4 separate regions of the Homo sapiens genome follow, and regions 2, 3 and 4 are each linked to region 1. The links come from fine-mapping of genetic effects on gene expression. A gene starts in region 1. Each other region holds a variant in brackets. All regions are shown on one strand. Distances are from middle to middle.

Region 1 (5,152 bases):
CGAGGGGGGCGGATCACGAGGTCAGGAGATCGAGACCATCCTGGCTAACACAGTGAAACCCTGTCTCTACTAAAAATACAAAAAAAAAAAAAACCAAAAAAAATTAGCTGGGCGTGGTGGTGGGCACCTGTAGTCCCAGCTACTCGGGAGGCTGAGGCAGGAGAATGCCGCGAACCCAGGAGGCGGAGCTTGCATGAGCCGAGAAGTGGAGACTGAGAATGTGACTGAATTGCTACAATCTCATGATCAAACTTGAACAGATGAGGAGCGGAGTTGCTTCTTATGGAGAGGCAAAAAAAGTAGTTTCTTGAGATGGAATCTACTCCCAGAGGAGATGCTATGAACATTTTGAAACGACAAAAAGGATTTTGAATATCACAAACTCGGTTGGTAAAATAGCAGCAGGGTGGGAGAAGGATCACTCCAATTTTGAAAGTAGTTCTATTGTTGTTAAAATGGTATCAAACAGCTTCCCATGCTACAGAGAAGTCTTTCGTGAAAGGTAAAGTCAATCCATGTGACAAACTTCATAGTTGCCTTAAGAATTTGCCATAGCCACTCCAACTTTTAGCAACCACTGCCTTGATCAGTCAGCAGCTATCAACATAGAGGCAAGACCTCTGCCAGCTAAAAGATTATGACTTGCTGAAGGTTCAGATGATCATTAGCACATTTTACCTATAAAGTACTTAAAATTAAGGTATAAACATTCTTTAGACACAATGCTATTGCACACTTTATACGCTACAGTATACTGGAAACATAACTTGTATATATATGCACTGGGAAATCAAAAAATTCATGTCACTTGCTTTATTGCAGTGATCTGGAACCATGCTTGCAGTATCTCCAAAGTATGCCCATACTTTAAATAGTTAGATTACTTATAATACCTAATATAATGTAAATGCTCTGTAAATAGTTGTTATGCTGTATTTTATTTGTATTATTTGTATTGTTATTTTTTGGGTTTTTAAAAAACATTTTTGACCAGCTGTTGGTTGATTCTGTGGATGCAGAAGACCCACTGTAAAACTATTAACTCATTTAGTCTTCCTAAAAACCCTATAAAGTAGGTACTATTTATTATATTCCCATTTTATAGATGAGAAAACTGAGTCATAGAGAAATAAAGAAACTTGCTCAAGGTCACACAGCCAATAAATAGTTTGATCTGAGAGACAAAGAAAACTGAAAAGACAATAAATTTATCTTTATGTAACTCAGAATGTTACTGTATGTCCTATCCTCATAATATCTAAAATTGTCCCTTCTGTTATTGGAAGTACAGGATCCACACGTTAGGAAATTCTGGCCTACTACAGGATAATCTAATATTTTAGAATTTTAATAACTAAGCTCTTCTATCTTTTTAGCCTCATCACCTGCCACAGTAACCTACCAACGTCTGGCACCCAGCCATTGCCAATGCTTCCTAAACCCAAACCTGTGGGTTTCCAGGGAGACTGGGGCATTTTCCATCTGAGTAGACAGTAAAAATAAGCAAAGGATTTACCATCATGGAGCTTCTGGGACTATACCGACCACGGGTCACTCTGCGCTGCGATCTGTAACCTAGTCAGTTCTGAGATGCACGGTGGCTCAAACGCACTTAGCATGGTGACTTGCCACTCGCACTGGCCCAGGTCTGGCACCGCGCTACAATTTCTTCTGTAGCCCGTTCTGAGATTCTGTCACTCTCCCTGAACTGCAACTCTCTCTCTCCCCGCCACACCCTAAAGCCCCACATCTTCTCAACCCTCTCCCACCGCTTCTTGGAGAAGCGTCCCCTCCCTCAGTCTTACCTTTGGCTTAATTTAAACTCTCCCGAAAATTTATAGCGGATGACGGCCGATCCCGCCTCCCAGACCATGTGGGCGCGGCTCACCATTGCTCCGGAGCACCTGCGGCGGGGGCGGGGTGGGACCAGCCAGGCGGGCCCAGGGGGCGGGCCCGGCCCAAGGTGGTGGGGGACGGGCCCGGGCGCCAGGGGCGGGACGAGGCTCTGGGGACTGGCACAGAAAAGGGAAGTGAACCTGGCGAGGGCGGGGCGGGATGGTGCAGTTGGTGGGGAAGGGTGGGGCGAACCTAGGAAGGCGGTCCCATAGGGCGGGCGCAGACTGGGCGCCCGGGACGGGTCAAGGAGGGCGGAATGAACCTGGAGAGGGCGGGGCGGCTGGGGGAGGGGCGGGAAGGCCCTGGGGACTGGCCTAGGGGCGGGCCCGGGGGGGTGGGGGGGCGGTGCGGAATGGAGCCGGAGGGGGCGGGGCGGCCCTGGCGCGGCTAGGGTGGGGTGGGGCGTCCCAGGCTCTGGCTAAGGAGCGCGCGGCGGGCGGGCCGGCCGCAGGGCCTGGGCACGACCATGGTGGGACGTCGCCCGCGGCTTCGGGGACCGCTGCGGCAGCAGAGGCGGCTGGCCAGGAACGCGGGCCGAGGCTGGACCCTTTGGGCAGCTAGCCCGTGATCTCTGCCGTCACCGATCGCGATTCCTACCCCCTCGCCTTCCCCCGGCGCCGACGGCCACACCGCCGGACGATGCGCGCCCGCGGCCGCCCGGGAGGCTGAGCCCAGCTTCCCGCTCCGCCTTCCCCGCGCAGCTGCCCCCATGGCTTTGCGGGGCGCCGCGGGAGCGACCGACACCCCGGTGTCCTCGGCCGGGGGAGCCCCCGGCGGCTCAGCGTCCTCGTCGTCCACCTCCTCGGGCGGCTCGGCCTCGGCGGGCGCGGGGCTGTGGGCCGCGCTCTATGACTACGAGGCTCGCGGCGAGGACGAGCTGAGCCTGCGGCGCGGCCAGCTGGTGGAGGTGCTGTCGCAGGACGCCGCCGTGTCGGGCGACGAGGGCTGGTGGGCAGGCCAGGTGCAGCGGCGCCTCGGCATCTTCCCCGCCAACTACGTGGCTCCCTGCCGCCCGGCCGCCAGCCCCGCGCCGCCGCCCTCGCGGCCCAGCTCCCCGGTACACGTCGCCTTCGAGCGGCTGGAGCTGAAGGAGCTCATCGGCGCTGGGGGCTTCGGGCAGGTGTACCGCGCCACCTGGCAGGGCCAGGAGGTGGCCGTGAAGGCGGCGCGCCAGGACCCGGAGCAGGACGCGGCGGCGGCTGCCGAGAGCGTGCGGCGCGAGGCTCGGCTCTTCGCCATGCTGCGGCACCCCAACATCATCGAGCTGCGCGGCGTGTGCCTGCAGCAGCCGCACCTCTGCCTGGTGCTGGAGTTCGCCCGCGGCGGAGCGCTCAACCGAGCGCTGGCCGCTGCCAACGCCGCCCCGGACCCGCGCGCGCCCGGCCCCCGCCGCGCGCGCCGCATCCCTCCGCACGTGCTGGTCAACTGGGCCGTGCAGATAGCGCGGGGCATGCTCTACCTGCATGAGGAGGCCTTCGTGCCCATCCTGCACCGGGACCTCAAGTCCAGCAACAGTAAGTGGGGCCAGAGGGAGGTGGGGGAAGACTACCTCCGTGCCAGCCCAGGCGGGCTCCACAGGACATAGTACCAGATGGAAAGAGGTGGGAGTCAGCCTTAGGGCGCCAGCAGCAACTCATGCCCAGGCCTTCAGGGCTCGGAAGTCCAGCTAGTCCTTGGTTACTTGCTTTGGGGCTGGTGACACGCTTAACCTTGACTTGCCTTTGGGTGCTTTTTAAAAAAGTTCAGACCAGACTTGCTTGTAGAGGAAACATTTGTAAAATACCTGGATCTCCTAGAAACCTCAGGGGGCAGTCTGGCCTTTCAATACCAGAGGTGATTCATCTGGGTAGGACTTTGCAAACCGAGGCCTTCTGCAGATTATATGGAACCCATGACCGTCTTCACCCGGTGGCCTTCATCAAAGTCCCCGAATGCACTCGGGGACGTCAACTTTACAAGTGCTGTATTGAGGTTGCTGTTTGCCTATTCAAAATATGACTTCATGTCTCTTACCTTTTCCAAAGACTGTTTTCATTCAAATGTCTCTCTATGGGCCAGGCGCGGTGGCTCATACCTGTAATCCCAGCACTTTGGGAGGCCGAGGTGGGCGGATCACCTGAGGTTACGAGTTTGAGACCAGCCTGGCCAACATGGCGAAACCCTGTCGCTACTAAAAATACAAAAATTAGCCCGGCGTAGTGGCAGGCGCCTGTAATCCCAGCTACTCGGGAGGCGGAGGCATGAGAATCACTTGAACCCGGGAGGCGGAAGTTGCAGTGAGCCAAGATCGCGCCACTGCACTCCAGCCTAGGAGATAGAGTGAGACTCTGTCTCAAAAAAAAAAAAAGTGTCTCTACGTGAAATATGATTTTATTATTGGTTCAATGGCTTCTTTTCTCCAGACAAGAGGCACTGGTGTGCACCGTAATGCACTTTTGGGTTAATAACAAGTGCATTGTCCTTGCACAGGTACTTGAAACCTTGAAGACCTGGCCAGTGTCATTGACTTTGTTTATAAATCAGGGTGGATTTTCCAGATGTCAATAAAGAACTGACAAATGACTTAAATGCAAATCCTATGAAACTTTGCTGTATAAAAGAGCCTATAGAATTGCTGTTTGATGTTGGTTCTTTAATATTGAAGATCGCTTCATATTCTTATAATGAGATGAAATCCCAGGGAAGGTTAAAGGATGCAGCCAGCCCTGGCATTGGCCTACAACAGCTGGAGGTCTTTCAATCCTGTGAAACCTGCTAGGACAGGAGCTAGCTCAAGTGAAAACATTGTCCCTAAAGAAGAGTGACAAGAAGAAATTTACTTGAAAATTACTAATGTAGCATTTTCACTGGGAATTGTAAATAATTGGAATGTTGTAGCTAAGCATAAGCATTAGGTTTTATTTCATGATCCTCCTTCCCCCCAAGTCTCTCTATAATTTAGATTGCATCTGCTTAGGTGATGAGAGCAAAGTCTAACAAAATATGTTGTTACTGGTAGCGGTGTATTCTTAGTACTTTGACAGACCACATGAAGGACTATAGCATTGCTTGCTTTTGAACTGTGTTACAGTAAAAACAGAGCGCAATTTCCTAAAATATACTTTTCTTTCGATAATATATATATATTTTTTTCAATAAAAGAAACGTCTGACCAGGTGCTGCCATAGAATGGGTGACTTGTCCATGTGTTCCATAAGCCCTATTTCCAATGGTGTCCTGAAAGCCTGCGTCTGTTAGGAGTTTTCTGCAGAACCAG
Region 2 (5,152 bases), 51 kb after region 1:
CAGCCAGGTAAATGTGTTTCAGGAGGTAGGATTTGCTTGAGCAGTCCTTGGCATCTGATTGTGCTGAAGCTTTGCTTTTACAGTCTTACGTGGTCATTAAAGTAGCAGAGGGGAGATTAGCAAGTAATGGCATTTCTTATAGCTTTACTTAAATTCAGAAGTTATTTTCCGTCAAGTATTTATGGCAGGAAGTAATTAGGCTTCACGTGGTTTTGGGAATTTGTAACTCTTCTTCCTTACCAGAAACATTATTATCACAATTAATTATGTAAAACCAAATCAATTTAGTATGGGAAATATTAGATGTAAAAATATAGACCCCCCTGAAAGTTCTGCTGAGATTAAGGGGTATGGCTTCTTGCTATAGTGCCACCTGTTGACATGAGGAAATCCAATGAAACAGGTTAACTATGAAAAACACAAAAACTAGCCGGCATGGTGGTGCTTGCTTGTAATCCCAGCTACTCAGGAGGCTGAGGCAAGAGAATCACTTGCACCTGGGAGCCAGAGGTGGCAGTGAGCCAAGATTGTGCCACTGCATGCCAGCCTGGACAATAGAGTGAATGAGACTCTATCTCTAGATAAATAAATAAATAAATAAATAAGAAAAATGACTCCTTGGAGAGTTTTACACTGGAATTTCTATTTAATTTAAATGAATCATAATGATTTACTTTCAATATTCTATATTTGTATTCAGTATTCAGTATTAAAAGATTGAAGAGATGGAAATCGTTGAAAAACTTCAAGCACGGTTACTAACACAGAAAATAAAATTGGTCTTTATACTTGACCATTTAGGCAGACTCTTTGGTACTTTGATCAAATTAAAGATGCCTTAGCAAGACACAATGTAAATGTATTGAATTTGTTATTGGTACTGTGCTCAATTTCACAAGCACCTTTGCACTCACTACCTGGGTTCAGCTTCTCCTTCTGAAGGTTCTCCTTTATGAAGGAAAAGGGAGCTTGGGTCAGCAACGTCAGGGAGTGGAAGGAAAAAGAGGGTACCCCAAACAAAAGGCACCACAGGGAAGAGCACAGGGTTCTTTGGAGAAAGAAAGCTGGCACCCCAAATTGTCTACATCAGCAGTCCCCAACCTTTATGGCACCAGAGACCAGTTTCATGGAAGACAGTTTTTCCATGGACCAGTGGGGTAGGGATGGTTTCAGGATGATCCAAGCGCATTACATTTGTTGTGCACTTTATTATTATTACATTGTAATTCATAATGAAATAATTCTACAACTCACCATAATGTAGAATCAGTGGGAGCCCTGAGCTTGTTTTCCTACAACTAGATGGTCCCATCTGGGAGTGATGGGAGACAGCAACAGATCATCAGATCCTAGATTCTCATAAGGAGCAACCTAGATCCCTTGTATGTGCAGTTCACAATGGGGTTCATGCTCCTATGAGAATCTAATGCTTCTGCTGAACTGACACAGGGCGGAGCTCAGGTGGTAATGTGAGCAATGGGCACTGGCTGTAAATGCAAAAGAAGCTTCACTCGCCCACCTGCTGCTCACTTCCTGCTGTGCAGCCTGGTTCCTAACAGGCCACGGTATCAGTCCATGGCCTGGGGTTCAGGGACCCCTGGTCTAGATCATCAAGCATGTTTAGGTATACTAGGATGTAGTGTTGGAAAAAATTAGAGATGTTATTTGGAAATCAGATTAATGAGTTTGTTGTTTAATTATGCGCTGTCACTTTTGTGATAAGAATGTTAGCTTCCTCTTAAGCGGGTATAATTTGTAACCTTTGGGATTCTGTAACCTCTTGGGAGAATCTTCTATTTTAATGGTCCCCAAACTTCAGTAAAGGCTAGCTGAAACACAGACTGCTGGACTCCACTCTTCAGAATTTCTGATTCCATAGTCTGGGGTGGGCCAATAATTTACATTTCTACAAATTCCCAGGGGATGCAGATGCTGCCAGTCCAGGCCACACACTTTGAGAACTGCTGATCTGCTACAGAACAGTTAGTTTATACACAGGAAAGCTGTAGATAATGGAGCCTGATGCATGTATTTAGGTGAAGTGAGGAAAAGAGCACATTTGGTGACATATTTAGTGATTTTGTGCCTATGGTTGTGCGTTTTTGTGTTTTGATGACTGTTTCTACAATAGTGTCTATTATTGAAGCTGATGAAGAACAGCTTCCCGAAGCATAGGAAACAGCAGATGGCTAGCTTGCTGGTTCATCTGCAGGGAACCTGAAGTTGTAGGGCCCTAGACTCTTGCTCCATGGAGCCCTCCTGGATGAATCATTTGCAGAAATGAAAAGGGCTGCATGTGTTTTGATTTAAAATATGTATTTATTATATTTTAGCTTTATTTTACAATCTTGTTTAAATGACTTTTGCTGTAAAATGATACTACAGTGTATGTACTTATACCTTTATTTAGGGTCCTGTGAAGAGCCAAAACTTTCCCCTGATGGATTAGAACACAGAAAACCAAAACAAATAAAATTGCCTAGTCAGGCCTACATTGATCTACCTCTTGGGAAAGATGCTCAGAGAGAGAATCCTGCAGAAGCTGAAAGCTGGGAGGAGGCAGCCTCTGCGAATGCTGCCACAGTCTCCATTGAGATGACTCCTACGAATAGTCTGAGTAGATCCCCCCAGAGAAAGAAAACGGAGTCAGCTCTGTATGGGTGCACC[G/A]TCCTTCTGGCATCGGTGGCTCTGGGACTGGACCTCAGAGAGCTTCATAAAGCACAGGCTGCTGAAGAACCGTTGCCCAAGGAAGAGAAGAAGAAACGAGAGGGAATCTTCCAGCGGGCTTCCAAGTCCCGCAGAAGCGCCAGTCCTCCCACAAGCCTGCCATCCACCTGTGGGGAGGCCAGCAGCCCACCCTCCCTGCCACTGTCAAGTGCCCTGGGCATCCTCTCCACACCTTCTTTCTCCACAAAGTGCCTGCTGCAGATGGACAGTGAAGATCCACTGGTGGACAGTGCACCTGTCACTTGTGACTCTGAGATGCTCACTCCGGATTTTTGTCCCACTGCCCCAGGAAGTGGTCGTGAGCCAGCCCTCATGCCAAGACTTGACACTGATTGTAGTGTATCAAGAAACTTGCCGTCTTCCTTCCTACAGCAGACATGTGGGAATGTACCTTACTGTGCTTCTTCAAAACATAGACCGTCACATCACAGACGGACCATGTCTGATGGAAATCCGACCCCAAGTAGGTTGCATTAATTAGGTAAAAGCATAAAACACTGCTGTAGAGATTAGTATGTGAAACAGTATGGATTTATGATTTTATCTTTTCCTGGTGATGACATTTAATAATTTGTTTTTACTGTTCATGTAGATCTTTGAACCTTACCCTTCTCTTATTTGATTTTAACTATGATTTGGATTCTGGGAAAAGTGTAATTGAATTTCAGTAACTGAAACCTATAATAGCATATCAAAGCAGAAAGAACACATGGAGAATAACCACCCAGCCCCCTCACGTTACGGGAAAGACAAGCCAGCTGCCCCAGTTAGAACCACGGATGAGTGGGAGGGCTGGAACTGAAACTGGCCTCTCGCCTCCCTGCGGGCCTTGTCTCCTCCACTGCTGTACATGTCATTGTTCTGTTTCTGTTGGGACTGTGTGTAGCAGGTGATCAGCCTGCTAGGGCTGCCATAACAGAGTGCCACAGCATGGAGAGATGTTCAGCACAAACTCATTGTCCAGCAGTTCCAGAGGCTGGAAGTCAGATCAAGGTGTCTGAAGGGTTGGTTCCTTCTGAGCTCAGCCTGGCTCCTTGACTTCTAGACGGCCGTTTTCTCCCTGTGTTCTCACACAGTCTTCACTCTGAGTGCATCTGTGTCCTAATCATCTGTGTCCTAATCTCTTTTTAGGACATCAGTCACATTGGATTAGGGCCCACCCTAATGACCTCATTTTACCTTAATCACCTCTGTACAGACCCTATTCCACATACAGTGACATCTGAGGGACAGAGGGTTAGGGCTTCTGCTTAGGAATTTTGTGGGGACACAGTTCACCCCATGACAGCAAGTATTACCCTGTTGATGTATGTTATACCAGACAGTTCCATGAGGTTTATGTCCAGATGTGGAATCTCTGAAAGAAAAGAAAATCAAATTTTTAAATAGTTTTTTAGTCTATTCAACAAGAGGGGCTTGGGCAGAAGGCAACCAGTGGTATTTCCACAGCACTTTATAGATGTTAAAGCACTTGGACATAAATTGTCTCTTAGTTTTTATGGCAACTCTATTATATGCAAGAGAATTCAAACTTACGGAAAATTAATGTTATTCAAGGTCACACAATTAGGAAGTAGTGGTGTCAGAATTTAAACCCGGGATCCTTCTGCTGTATCACAGTGTCTCACTCCTCCTCACTGCGGTATTTTTTCCATTCCTAAAATTCAGTGAGTATTGATGTGACTGGATCATGCTATCATGTGCTAGAATGTACTCAGCTTTGAGATTTCTGGGGTTAAGTGGCACTGAAATACTGACATTTGAGGAGATAATATGGGTACTTTGGAAGAATGGGGGATTTTGAGTCATAGAACAAAGGTTCAAGTTCTAGTTGTACTATTTGGTAAGTTTGTGATGCTGGGGAAATTACGTAGACTGCTTTCTTGTTTGAATGTCTTAAAAAGCATTGTAGTGTCATGGTTAATAGTATGGAAGCTAGCTGGGCTCATATCTCTGCTTATATGCTGAGTGAATTTGGGCGAATCACTTAAACATTTTGTGCCTCAGTTTCTTCATCTATAAAATGGGGACAGTAACAATATACATACCTAATACTATACTTACCTAATCTGTACAATTGAGATCGTGGTAAAAGTCAGATGGCACACTAAGTGCTCTGTAGAGCTTGAGTATTATTTATTTTGTATGTGAACATAATTGCAATAACCTTATATACCTGTCATGAATATTAAGTGAGGTAATATATACAAAAAATGCTTTCTAAATTGTAAAATGCTATGCTAGCATTGGTTATAAAGCTATATTAAGACAAACTGCTTTCATCCTTTTTATCTTTTCCTTTACTTCTTTTTAAATATTATATCTGGATATGATATTTTCTATATTATTGTTCATTGCCTTTAGATAAATTGGTTTATTATCTTTCTGTAGGTCAATAAGTATTGGTAATTTATAATTGCACAAG
Region 3 (5,152 bases), 140 kb after region 1:
TTTTTTTTTTTTTTTGAGATGAAGCTCTGTCACCCAGGCTCGAGTGCAGTGGTGCAAAAATCTCGGCTCACTGCAACCTCTGCATCCTGGGTTCAAGTGGTTCTCCTGCCTTAGCCTCCCAAGTAGCTGGGATTATAGGCGCCTGCCACCATGCCTGGCTAATTTTTGTATTTTTAGTAGAGACGAGGTTTCACTCGTCTCTACTAAATTAGATGTCATCTCTATTAAATTAGATGTTGGCCAAGCCAATTTTGAACTCCTGACCTCAAGTGATCCACCCGCCCTGGCCTCCCAAAGTGTTGGGATTACAGGTGTGAGCCACCGTGCCCGGCCGTCTCTCATCTTTTTATTGGTATGTTTAGACTCAGTATTCAGAGGTAGGGTCATCTCATCAAAAACAAGGTGATATAAATAGAGCAGGAATCATGACCCCAAACCTCCAGTGGCTCATTCAAGTAATTAAGGAAGTGATTAATTAGATTCTGAGATGAAAGATAAAACATGAGAAAAATGCTTTGTTACTCTCTGTATTAGTCAGGATTCTCTAGAGAGACAGAACAAATAGGAGATGGATATAGACATAGATTAGATATGGATGTAGATATAGATAGGTAGATGGGAGAGGATTTATTAGGGGAATTGGCTCAAATGATTATTGAGGCTGAGAAGTCCCAGGACAGGTTGTCTGCAAGCTGGAGACCTGGGAATTCTGGTAGTACAGCTCAGTACAAGTCCAAAGGCATCAGAGCCAGGAGTGATGCCATCAGAGCCAGAGGATGATGGTGTAACTCTCATTCCAAGGCCAAAGGCCTGAGAACCCAGGGGTCATTGGTGTAACTCGTGGAGTCCAAAGATCAGAGAGCCTGAAGTTGTCCAAGGACAGGAGAGGGACAATATATCCCAACTCTAGTAGAGAGATTAACCTATTTGCCCTTTCTGTTTTTGTTTTCTGCAGGTCCCCAGTAGACTAGATGGTGCCTGCCCACATTGAGGGTGGATCTTCCCCACTTAGTCCTCTCAGACTCACATGCCGATCTCCTTTGGAAACACCTTCACAGACACACTCAGAAAAAAAACGCTTTACCAGATTTCTAGGTATTCCTTATTCCAGTCAAATTAACATCAAAACTTAATCATCACGCTCCCTTATTTTTGTTTTCCTAATTGTTTCATGCATGTAAATAGCTCTAAGAGAGTCCATCAAAACCATGAAATCTCTTCCCTCCCAGAACTGGGTGGCACAGAAAGTGGTGGAGGCTGGTGTCACGATGCAGATGAAATACGGACCCATGTAAATACAGACCTGTAGTCTGCCACTGCTACAGAGGCTCCACTTCGTTGTGGGATGTAAGATGCAGGTGCAGACTGAAATAGGGAAACTCTGAGCCAGAGGAGGAGACAGTGATTTGGGCCTCCATATGCTCTGCGGGATATAGATCCTGAGCTCCACTGACCCCCATTCCAAACTTAGGAGGCTTCCTGCTTTGGCTGCCATTCAGGGACAAATTCATGAAGACTTCCTCATAGCTCTTCCTCCCAAGGCAAATCCATGGACACCCTCCCCTCTGGCTCCCCTCCCAATTGGTGGAGGCTGGGGGAATGGATCTAAAGTAGGAGGGACCTCAAATCTGATAGTTATTCAGGTCTTACTGGAGCTTCCAGAGAGCTGGGCCTTGGGATCTTCATTTATAAAATGAGGGGTTTGCACCAGGCAGTCCGTGCCAGCTCAGATTCTGCAAACATGATTTCCTTTACCTATTTATTTCTAAAGTAATGCGTGGGCCTGCACGATGGCTCACGTCTGTAATCCCAGCACTTTGGGAGACCAAGTAGGAGGATCACTTGAAGTCAGGAGTTCAAGACCAGGCTGGCAAACATGGTGAAACCCTGTCTCTACTAAAAATACAAAGCTAATTGGGTGTGGTGGCATGCACCTGCAGTCCCAGCTACTCAGGAGGCTGAAGCAGGAGAATTGCTTGAACCAAGGAGGCAGAGGTTGCAGTGAGCTGAGATCGTGCCATTGCACTCCAGCTTGGGTAACAGAGGGAGATTCCATCTCATAATAAAATAAAATAATGTGTGCTACTTAAAAAGCCTCAAATAATACAATGTATATAAAATCCCTTCATGTGTTTTGAGCTGTGACAATGCAAATATGAAGAATGAGTAGGGATCATCTGACTGTCTATGACTATGTCTCCATTTGACGGGGACAATTTCCATTTGCACCTGTTGTCTGTCAGTCATTGCTAACAACACTCCTTTTATTCTCAAAATTTCCCAGTTGAAATGATTATTTATATGGACCACACAAGCATGGACAGCCCTGGGTGTGGTGCTACGCCACGGCTGGCTGATGAGAGTAGTTTCCCATAACTATAGAAGACATGGGCAGAGCTTTAGTTAAATAAGAAAAAGAGACTGAATAAGCTGACTGCTATGATGTGTCAAACCCACCAAGGCCTAGAATCCTATGTGATGTCCCCAAAACCCTATGAAAAAAGAGGGGGATTCTAAGACGAGTGAATGCCCAGTTATAACCCTAAGGTAAAGGGAGAAGGAGGGGCATCTGGGGAGTCAGTGGCCCTTCTAAGACTTGTAGACATCAAACGAACGCCACTCTCTGTGGGATTAAAAAAGTGGCAGAGAAATTCACACACACACATACACACACACACACACACACACATACACACACACACACACACACCACACCACACACCATTTCTTGACCCTACCTCCCTCTCCAGTTGTCATTTTATTCCATGCTGTCCCTCATCACCTGGTTTTCTGAAAAATAACCCTGGCCTTATTGTTTCTCCTCTTTTACTTTGGTCAAGCTTCTGTGCCCACTCCTCACT[C/T]TCACCAAGATCATTAATGAAGCACTTCAGGTCCTTGTTAGTTGACCTGCCTTCTTGCAGTGCAGGATGCTGATTGCTGTCTTTTTGAAGTCTTCCTTTTCCAACCTCTGTAGTGCTCCTTCTCAGACATCTTTGCTCAATCCTTAGAGTTTGGGTTCCCCAGTGTTCTGCCCTCATCCCATTCAACAATTCTTCCTGCAGCTCTTGTCCACACCAATTCAACTATTACCTACAAACCAGTGAGTTGAAATCCCTATCTCCAGACGTTTCTCATGAGTTCCATGCTTATATACCTGACTACCTTGAGACACATTCCTATAGTTTTTCCCCATGCACCCCACTTCACACGCTTAAACCTGAGATCATCAACTGCCTTCACCATTTCCCAAGCCTATCTTGACTCTTGCATCCCTAATCTTGTGGAATCTCACTGGCATCTACCCCGTTCCCAAGGAAGGTCTATATAAACTATCAACTTTATTTTCCTTTTACTCCTTACATCCAAACAGTCAATAGATGCTGTCAATTTTATGCTTTTGACCTATATCATGCTTCTGCCCTCTTCTCCATCCCCACTTCCCTTCTTCAGGCTTCTATTACTTTCCATCTAAAACACTGCATGGGCAACTTCATTGATCTCCTTGCCTCTAGCTGTGTTCCCTTTTGGTCCAACCCTGTGTACTCTGACATCAGAGCAACCTTTTGAAATCCCAAATCTGATCACTGTTGCCACTTTATTGGAGTTCCTTCCTATGTAGCTCTGTTTTCCTTGGGGTCCTGGAATGATATTGGAGAAGGCATGGATCAGACCAATAGCTATAGGAGAAATGGCACATAAAAGCCAAGGTCTTATCATAGGCTCGGGACATTCTTTATATATTTTTTTTCCTGAACACTGTTTGGATTCGCCCCATTAAGCAGAGCAAACACCAAGATTCTTTTACAATTGGAAAAAGGTCCTAAGAAGGAGACCCTGGGGTTCCAGTTAATTTGACTGTGTGGTGGCTCAAGAAGCTAGTTAGAAAGATATGTGACCTCATTTGTTTTCCTAAACTGATGAAGGGAGCCTACAGTTACATGTGAATAAGGAACTGTAGCAATGAATAAAGAACTGTAGCAGAGAGAAGAGACAACCTGGCACATGCTGGTTGGACTCCAGTCTTCCAGGGTTGGGAGATGCTCCTCCCGTACTGCATTCTAGTGTTTCCCTCTAAACTTCTGGATTCCATCACGTCTCTGCTAAATACACTTCAAAGCTTCCTTCAGGATTAAAGCAAAATTCTTGAGACTAGCACATGACATTGTACTTGGTCTGGCCTCTGCCTTCCTCGCTACTCTGCCAACTGTATCTCTTACTCCAATTAGACAAATCATTTTCAAAAGTGCCACACTTTGGTCTTGCTCCATGTTTTCTCTGCTGGGAACCTCTTTATTCTCTCAGGGCTTCTGTGCCTCATTCCTTCTTTGCTGTTTGGATGAGATTTGTTTATCCCCATCAAACCTCATGCTGACATTTGATCTCCAATATGGTGACCTTGGGAAGTGGAGCCTAGTGGGTGGTGTTTAGGTCATGGAGGGCGGGGAATGAATCCCTCATGAATGGGAGACTGAGGTGGGAAGATCACTTGAGCCCAGGAATTCAGGACCAGCCTGGGCAACATAAGCAAAGTCCCGTCTCTAAAAATAAAATTAAAACAGTTAGCTGGGCATGGTGGCACATGCCTGTAGTCTTAGCTACTCAAGAGGCTGAGGCAGGAAGATCTCTTTGAGAGGTGACAACATGCTAGCAGCCCTCGCTCACTCTCAGCGCCTCCTCGGCCTCGGTGTCCACTCTGGCTGCGCTTGAAGAGCACTTCAGCCCGCCGCTGCACTGTGGGAGCCCCTCTCTGGGCTGGCCGAGGCCGAATTTGGCTCCCTCTGCTTGCCCGGAGGTATGGAGGGAGAGGCCCGGGCGGGAACCAGGGCTGTACGTGAAGCTTGTGGCGAGCCCGGGTTCCGGCTGGGTGCAGGCTCAGTGGCCCGCAGTCGGAGCGGCCGGTCGGCGCCGCTGGCCCAGGGCAGTGAGGGGCTTAGCACCCAGGCAAGCAGCTTCGGAGGGTGCGCCAGTTCCCCCAGCACTGTCAGCCCGCCTGCGCCATGCTCGAATTCTTGCCGGGCCTCAGCCTCTTCCTTGCGGGACAGGGCTCGGGACCTGCAGCCCTCCATGCCTGAGCCTGCCGCTGCCCCTGCCCTGGCCTTGGCCCCCCGCCCACCATCTTCTTGCATGCTGTGGAAGCTTTGTTCTTTCCCTC
Region 4 (5,152 bases), 58 kb after region 1:
TGGAAACGACAACTATATTATGAATTATTTTCAGAAATGGATCTTTGAATAGCAGATCAGGATTTAAATAATAAAATTATCTATGAATCACTTTTATGGTCATACATATATGATACAAATCCAGAGTTATTGGTGCAGAAATGGCTACCCGAGAGCTTGGTAAATTTGCCTTGGTTTCTTATGTTAAATGTATTGTGCTTCCCTTCTGTCTCTAGAATGTGGCTCTTCAGAAGACAGACAATCGACATTTAAATTTTTCCAAACAATGAAAAACTAAATTAAAAACATTGCTTGATATTTCATTTAAAATTGCACCTTGCTTAAGGTTTACTGAATAACTGAAATGTCAGCAATTTAAAATAAATTCAATTGTGTGATAAAATATCTCACCTATAATAGAAGAAAAGGAAAATCATATTATTTGGCAATTTTGCAGCATTGTGGTTGCCTAACAGGTATATCCAGCAGATGAGAAACAGTATGAAAGGATTGTATTAACATGGTAAGTTTTGCCCTAAGGAAAACGATCTTGCATTCTGGATTCTTGCAGCAAAGTCTCAGATACTTAATACGTTTTCTTGTTTTATCATCTGTTCTATGATTCGGCTTCACTTTGTGTGGTTATTGAATTATGTAACAGAGATTTGGTTTTCCCAAAATGTTATCACATTTGAAACTATGATTGCTTTGTGTTCAGTCCTTTTGGAACACGTAGCTTCCAGCTTAAGGGTAGAGAAATATATACCTAAAATCATCAATACATGAAAGAAAAAGGATGGAAACTATGTCCTCAGTTTTACTTCTACCAAAACATCCCTGTATGTGTGTGCATGTATGTTGGCGTGTGTGTGTGTGCATGCATATTAGTAAATGTGTGTTTGCATGTGTGTGTTGGGGAGTGTATGTGATCTGGGTGTTTGTTTATCTCTGTTATTATTCCCCTTTAGCTTTATTTTAGTCAACTCTACATTATGATGAATTTCAAAATGAAGCTGTATTAAAATAATTGTAATATAACAATTCAATCTCACATGTTACTGCAGATAGTTAACTTTTGCTGCAATCTATTGTACATTTGCAATTTTCTGTGTTAGTAAACTTAGCAGAATCTGGTTATTTATTTTTGTGTAGGCTTAATGTTCACTGAAAGATAAGTCAATTACTGTTAGTAAAAAATTAAGGTACTCTCACTGCAGAGATTTAAGGCCTGGGCCTAATGTGCTGTATTATGAAGCCTTGTGACTGAAAAATATGTTTACATATGTTGTCTATTTTTTTAATAAACTTTTATAGCTGGTCTATTTGCTCAGTAGCTTTGATCCTCTCTTGATTATTGTGACTATAGTTTGCAATGGTTTATTTTGTATTCAATAAGAAAAATTGTGTTAATAAAGATTATTGTTTAATAAGCCAGGTATTAACCTGCTAAATATATTAAACTGAAAATCACTAAATGAGTCATTCAATTAAATACATCAAAAAAGGTAGAATGAAATGTTTTATTTCAAATTTTTTTGGTTTACATATGCATTGAAAAGTTATATTTCATGGTGAGCGTTTTGCAAGTCCAGCTTTTCAGAAGACACACTTTTGCAGAGTGAAATGAGTATGAGAAAAAAATCTCAGTGATTAAGGAGACATGTTGATTTTATTGTTTAATTTTATGTTTAAATCAGAGGAATTTCAAACACCACTTAACATGTAGAAATTCTTACTAAGTGATAAAAGCTTGAGTGAATGAGGAAAGCAGATCGCAGGACTTCATGGAGATCATAGCATTACCCCACCACATGGGAGGGAGCAAAACGTAATGTGCATTGAATATCTGTTAAGTATGGGGAACCCTCCTAGGTGCCTATAGAAGACAACTCCTGTAATTCTCTTTAATAAAAATTGTGAGAGAAAGCCAGGCATGGTGGCTCACGCCTGTAATCCCAGCACTTTGGGAACCTGAGGTGGGCGGATCAAGAGGTCAAGAGATCGAGACCATCCTGGCCAACATGGTGAAACCCCTTCTTTACTAAAAATACAAAAAATTAGTCTGGCATGATGGTGCCCGCCTGTAATCCAAGTTACTCAGGAGGCTGAGGCAGAAGAATTGCTTGAATCTGGGAGGCAGAGGTTGCAGTCAGCCGGGATCGCACCATTGCACTCCAGCCTGGTGACAGAGTGAGACTTAATCTCAAAAAAAAAAAAAAAAAAAAA[C/A]AAACTGTGAGATAAGTAATACTACTCCTATCGCATTAGATATGAAACAGACACAGAAAGGTTTGGTAAATTTCCAAAGACCCAGTCTGAGTCAAGTGATCACCATCTACCTGTTCACACCTGTGGTTAATAGTTGTAAGCATGGTGTAGAAGATGAGGACATCTTGCAAATGAGCTTTGTAAATGTTATCTAAAGCTAAGGTAGTTTCTCTCTCATCAAAAAGTCAAAAGTCTAAAAATGTATGAGTACCATTGAAGTTAAATAAGATATAGAGATAAATATTGAAATTTGAAACATTTTATTTAGGAAGCAAGAATTGCAATTCAGGACATACACAGAGACCAGGTGATCTTCAGTATGTCCAAAGAACAAAGAGACAGGAGTTTTATTAAAGAATTGTTACATATTGTTTTGAAAGAAAGCTCATTGGCACTAGAGAAGCTTTTGGACTCTGGCAAGCTCTGGTTGGTGAGTCATGGCAGGAATTAAAACAAGTCTTAGAGTCACAAATTGTTGCTTCAGCAGCTACCAGGTAAAACTGGCCCTGGGGTGACAGCAGGCCATTTCAGCAGCTGGGCTTGGAGAAAATACATTCGTGGAGTAGGTGCTATGTCCCCCACGTATGTTTTCCTCTCTGGCCCCTCAGTTCTGATTTAACTGAGTATGTATGACAAGAATTGCCCAATTTGTATTATTAACTTTCACAGTACTTATTTAAAAATAAAACACTATTAGCTAATAACACTTAATACAATGGAAAATGCAATAGAAAGGAGTAAAATATGCATATCTGATAGATCAACTCAGAGAAATGAGGTATTCTGTTCAATAGGTTCATAAATGCCATGGTCTGAATATGTCCCTCAAAATTCCTATGTTGAAATCGTAACCATCAAAGTTTTGGAATTAAGAGGTGGGAGGTAATTAGATCATGAATTCTCATGAATGGGGTTAATGCTGTTTTAAAAGAGGCCTGAAGGAAGCTGTTATCCCTTTACACCATGTGAGGACACAGTGAGAAACTGCTATATATACACTAGGAAACAGGCCCACAGCAGACACAGAGTCTGCCAGCACCATCATCTTGGACTTCCCAGCCTCCAGAACTGTGAGCAACAAATGTGTGTTGTTTAGAAGCCACCTACTTTATGTTATTTTGTTATAACAGCCCAGATGGACTAAGACAATAAATATGGTGAAATTATGTAAGAACTGCAATATACACATAAAATAATTTAATTGGGCTTAAGCTGTCTCTATTCTTTACTTCTGCAAAGATCAACATGCTGAAACATAGTGAAAGATGAAGTATTTGTGAATGAAACAATGTAATCGGTACCAGAGAGTGGAACAAAAACTAGCTATTGTTTGTGGTGGCAGGCGCCTGTAGTCCCAGCTACTCGGGAGGCTGAGGCAGGAGAATGGCATGAACCCAGGAGGTGGAGCTCGCAGTGAGCCGAGATTGTGCCACTGCACTCCAGCCTGGGCAACAGAGCAAGACTCCATCTCAAAAACAAACAACAAACAAACAACAACAACAACAAAACTAGCTATTGTTTTTACAACCAAGCAAAATATAGCAGGTCCACACATAACATTTTTTCATTCAATGTCATTCTGTTATAATATTAACGAGGAAAAAAATTTGATTCCCAGCCAGGGCTGCTGTCTGTGGGGTGTGCACTTTCTCCCCATGTCTGCGTGGGTTTTCTCCAGGGACTCTGGTTTCCTCCCACATCCCAAAGACATGCATGCCAGGTTAACTGGTGTGTCTCAATTGTCTGAGTGTGAGAGTGTGGGTGTGTGAGTGTGCCCTGCCATAGAATGGGGTTGATTCCCACCTTGTGCCTTGAGCTGCTGGGATGGGCTCTGGCCACCTGCGACCCTGAACCAGAATCACTGGGTATATAATTACCTTAAATTGTTTTCATTAATCTTAGATGTATGTATAGATAACATTTATTTCAATGTTTAGTGTTAGAAGTGTTTGGGGTCTTTATTTAGCGATTTAGTGGTGTTTTCGTGACCAGAAATATGCCCTAGGAACTTAACTGCTGTTTTTATTAATTCACCTGTAGTGAAATTGGTTTTGTGTTACCTTGTTTTGCTTAAAGTCACAGTTTCCAAATACCTATAGACAATGTTAAGTGAGGACTTCCTGTAAGTAGTTTAGATTGAGGAGCTTCCACACACTGACAAACTCGTTTAGTGGCTACTGTGTTAGGCACCACGAAAGAGACACCAGATGTAGCGGAGAGCAAGGAAGATGAGGCTTGTCCCCTGCCTGGATGGTTTTAATGAGAAACTGTGCTCAGGGCAACTGCATGGACATCATGTGACTTGTGCAGTCACACAGAGCCTCACACTCAGATGGTCCCTGAGCCTGACTTTCATGCTCTGTGAACATCATCTTGAAATTCTTAATAATTTTTAAAGAGGGAGCCCTCATTTTTATCTTTCACAGGGCCTCACAAGCTATGCGGCCAATTCTGACAACAAGCGAAGGGAGTGTTAAAAAAAGGTGAAGTCACTGGGGCTTTGATAGCATTAAAGGAGTTCATCTAATCTTGGGTGGGTGGGAGGTGTCAGGGAAGTGTCTGAGGAAGCCAGGATGTCCACTGGATGAGGAATGCTCCATGCAGAGTTGCTAGCTTGTGAAAAGTCCTAAGTCATTTTTCTTGTGCTGCATTCCATATTTTCTCTTTGTTTTTGGCTCTTAGCATTTTTGCCATGACACATCTAGTTATGGATCTCTTTGCATATATACTTCTTGGAGTTTGTTGAATTTCTTGAATGTGTAGATCCATGTTTTCAGCACATTTGAGAAGTTTTCAGCCATTATATCTTCAAATATTTTTTTCTTCTTCTTTTCCTCTCTTCTTCTGCTACTCCCATTACACATGCTGGTGTACCTAGTGAATCCAGCATTTGTCTGTGGCTCTGCTT

Which allele goes with the higher level. Alleles are on the strand shown, and positions count from the first base shown. SD is a standard deviation of normalised expression in the study named. Not every link is listed here.
In carriers of allele G in region 2, the expression in amygdala of the gene that starts at base 2,301 in region 1 tends to be lower than with A alone (moderate effect, 0.57 SD a copy in GTEx).

The links.
Region 2: its variant is fine-mapped to the expression of MAP3K21 in amygdala (GTEx, PIP 0.92).
Region 3: its variant is fine-mapped to the expression of MAP3K21 in prefrontal cortex (GTEx, PIP 0.92).
Region 4: its variant is fine-mapped to the expression of MAP3K21 in whole blood (INTERVAL, PIP 0.97).

Annotation. Positions count from the first base shown.
Region 1 is chr1:233,325,424-233,330,575 of GRCh38, forward strand. It overlaps MAP3K21 (mitogen-activated protein kinase kinase kinase 21), which reads left to right and starts at 2,301. Exons shown (of 10, transcript NM_032435.3): 1 at 2,301-3,410. The coding sequence starts at 2,606. It also overlaps a transcript of PCNX2 not described here. RefSeq lists silencers at 1,815-2,114, 2,305-2,604, 2,404-2,555, 2,745-2,944.
Region 2 is chr1:233,376,521-233,381,672 of GRCh38, forward strand. It overlaps MAP3K21 (mitogen-activated protein kinase kinase kinase 21), which reads left to right. Exons shown (of 10, transcript NM_032435.3): 8 at 1-7; 9 at 2,411-3,190. Among named protein-coding and RNA genes, the nearest start is that of MAP3K21, 51 kb to the left of the region's middle. The variant G/A (reference allele first, on the strand shown) is at 2,668.
Region 3 is chr1:233,461,232-233,466,383 of GRCh38, forward strand. No RefSeq gene overlaps it. Among named protein-coding and RNA genes, the nearest start is that of MAP3K21, 140 kb to the left of the region's middle. The variant C/T (reference allele first, on the strand shown) is at 2,862.
Region 4 is chr1:233,383,837-233,388,988 of GRCh38, forward strand. MAP3K21 (mitogen-activated protein kinase kinase kinase 21) reads left to right here. Exons shown (of 10, transcript NM_032435.3): 10 at 1-1,312. Among named protein-coding and RNA genes, the nearest start is that of MAP3K21, 59 kb to the left of the region's middle. The variant C/A (reference allele first, on the strand shown) is at 2,206.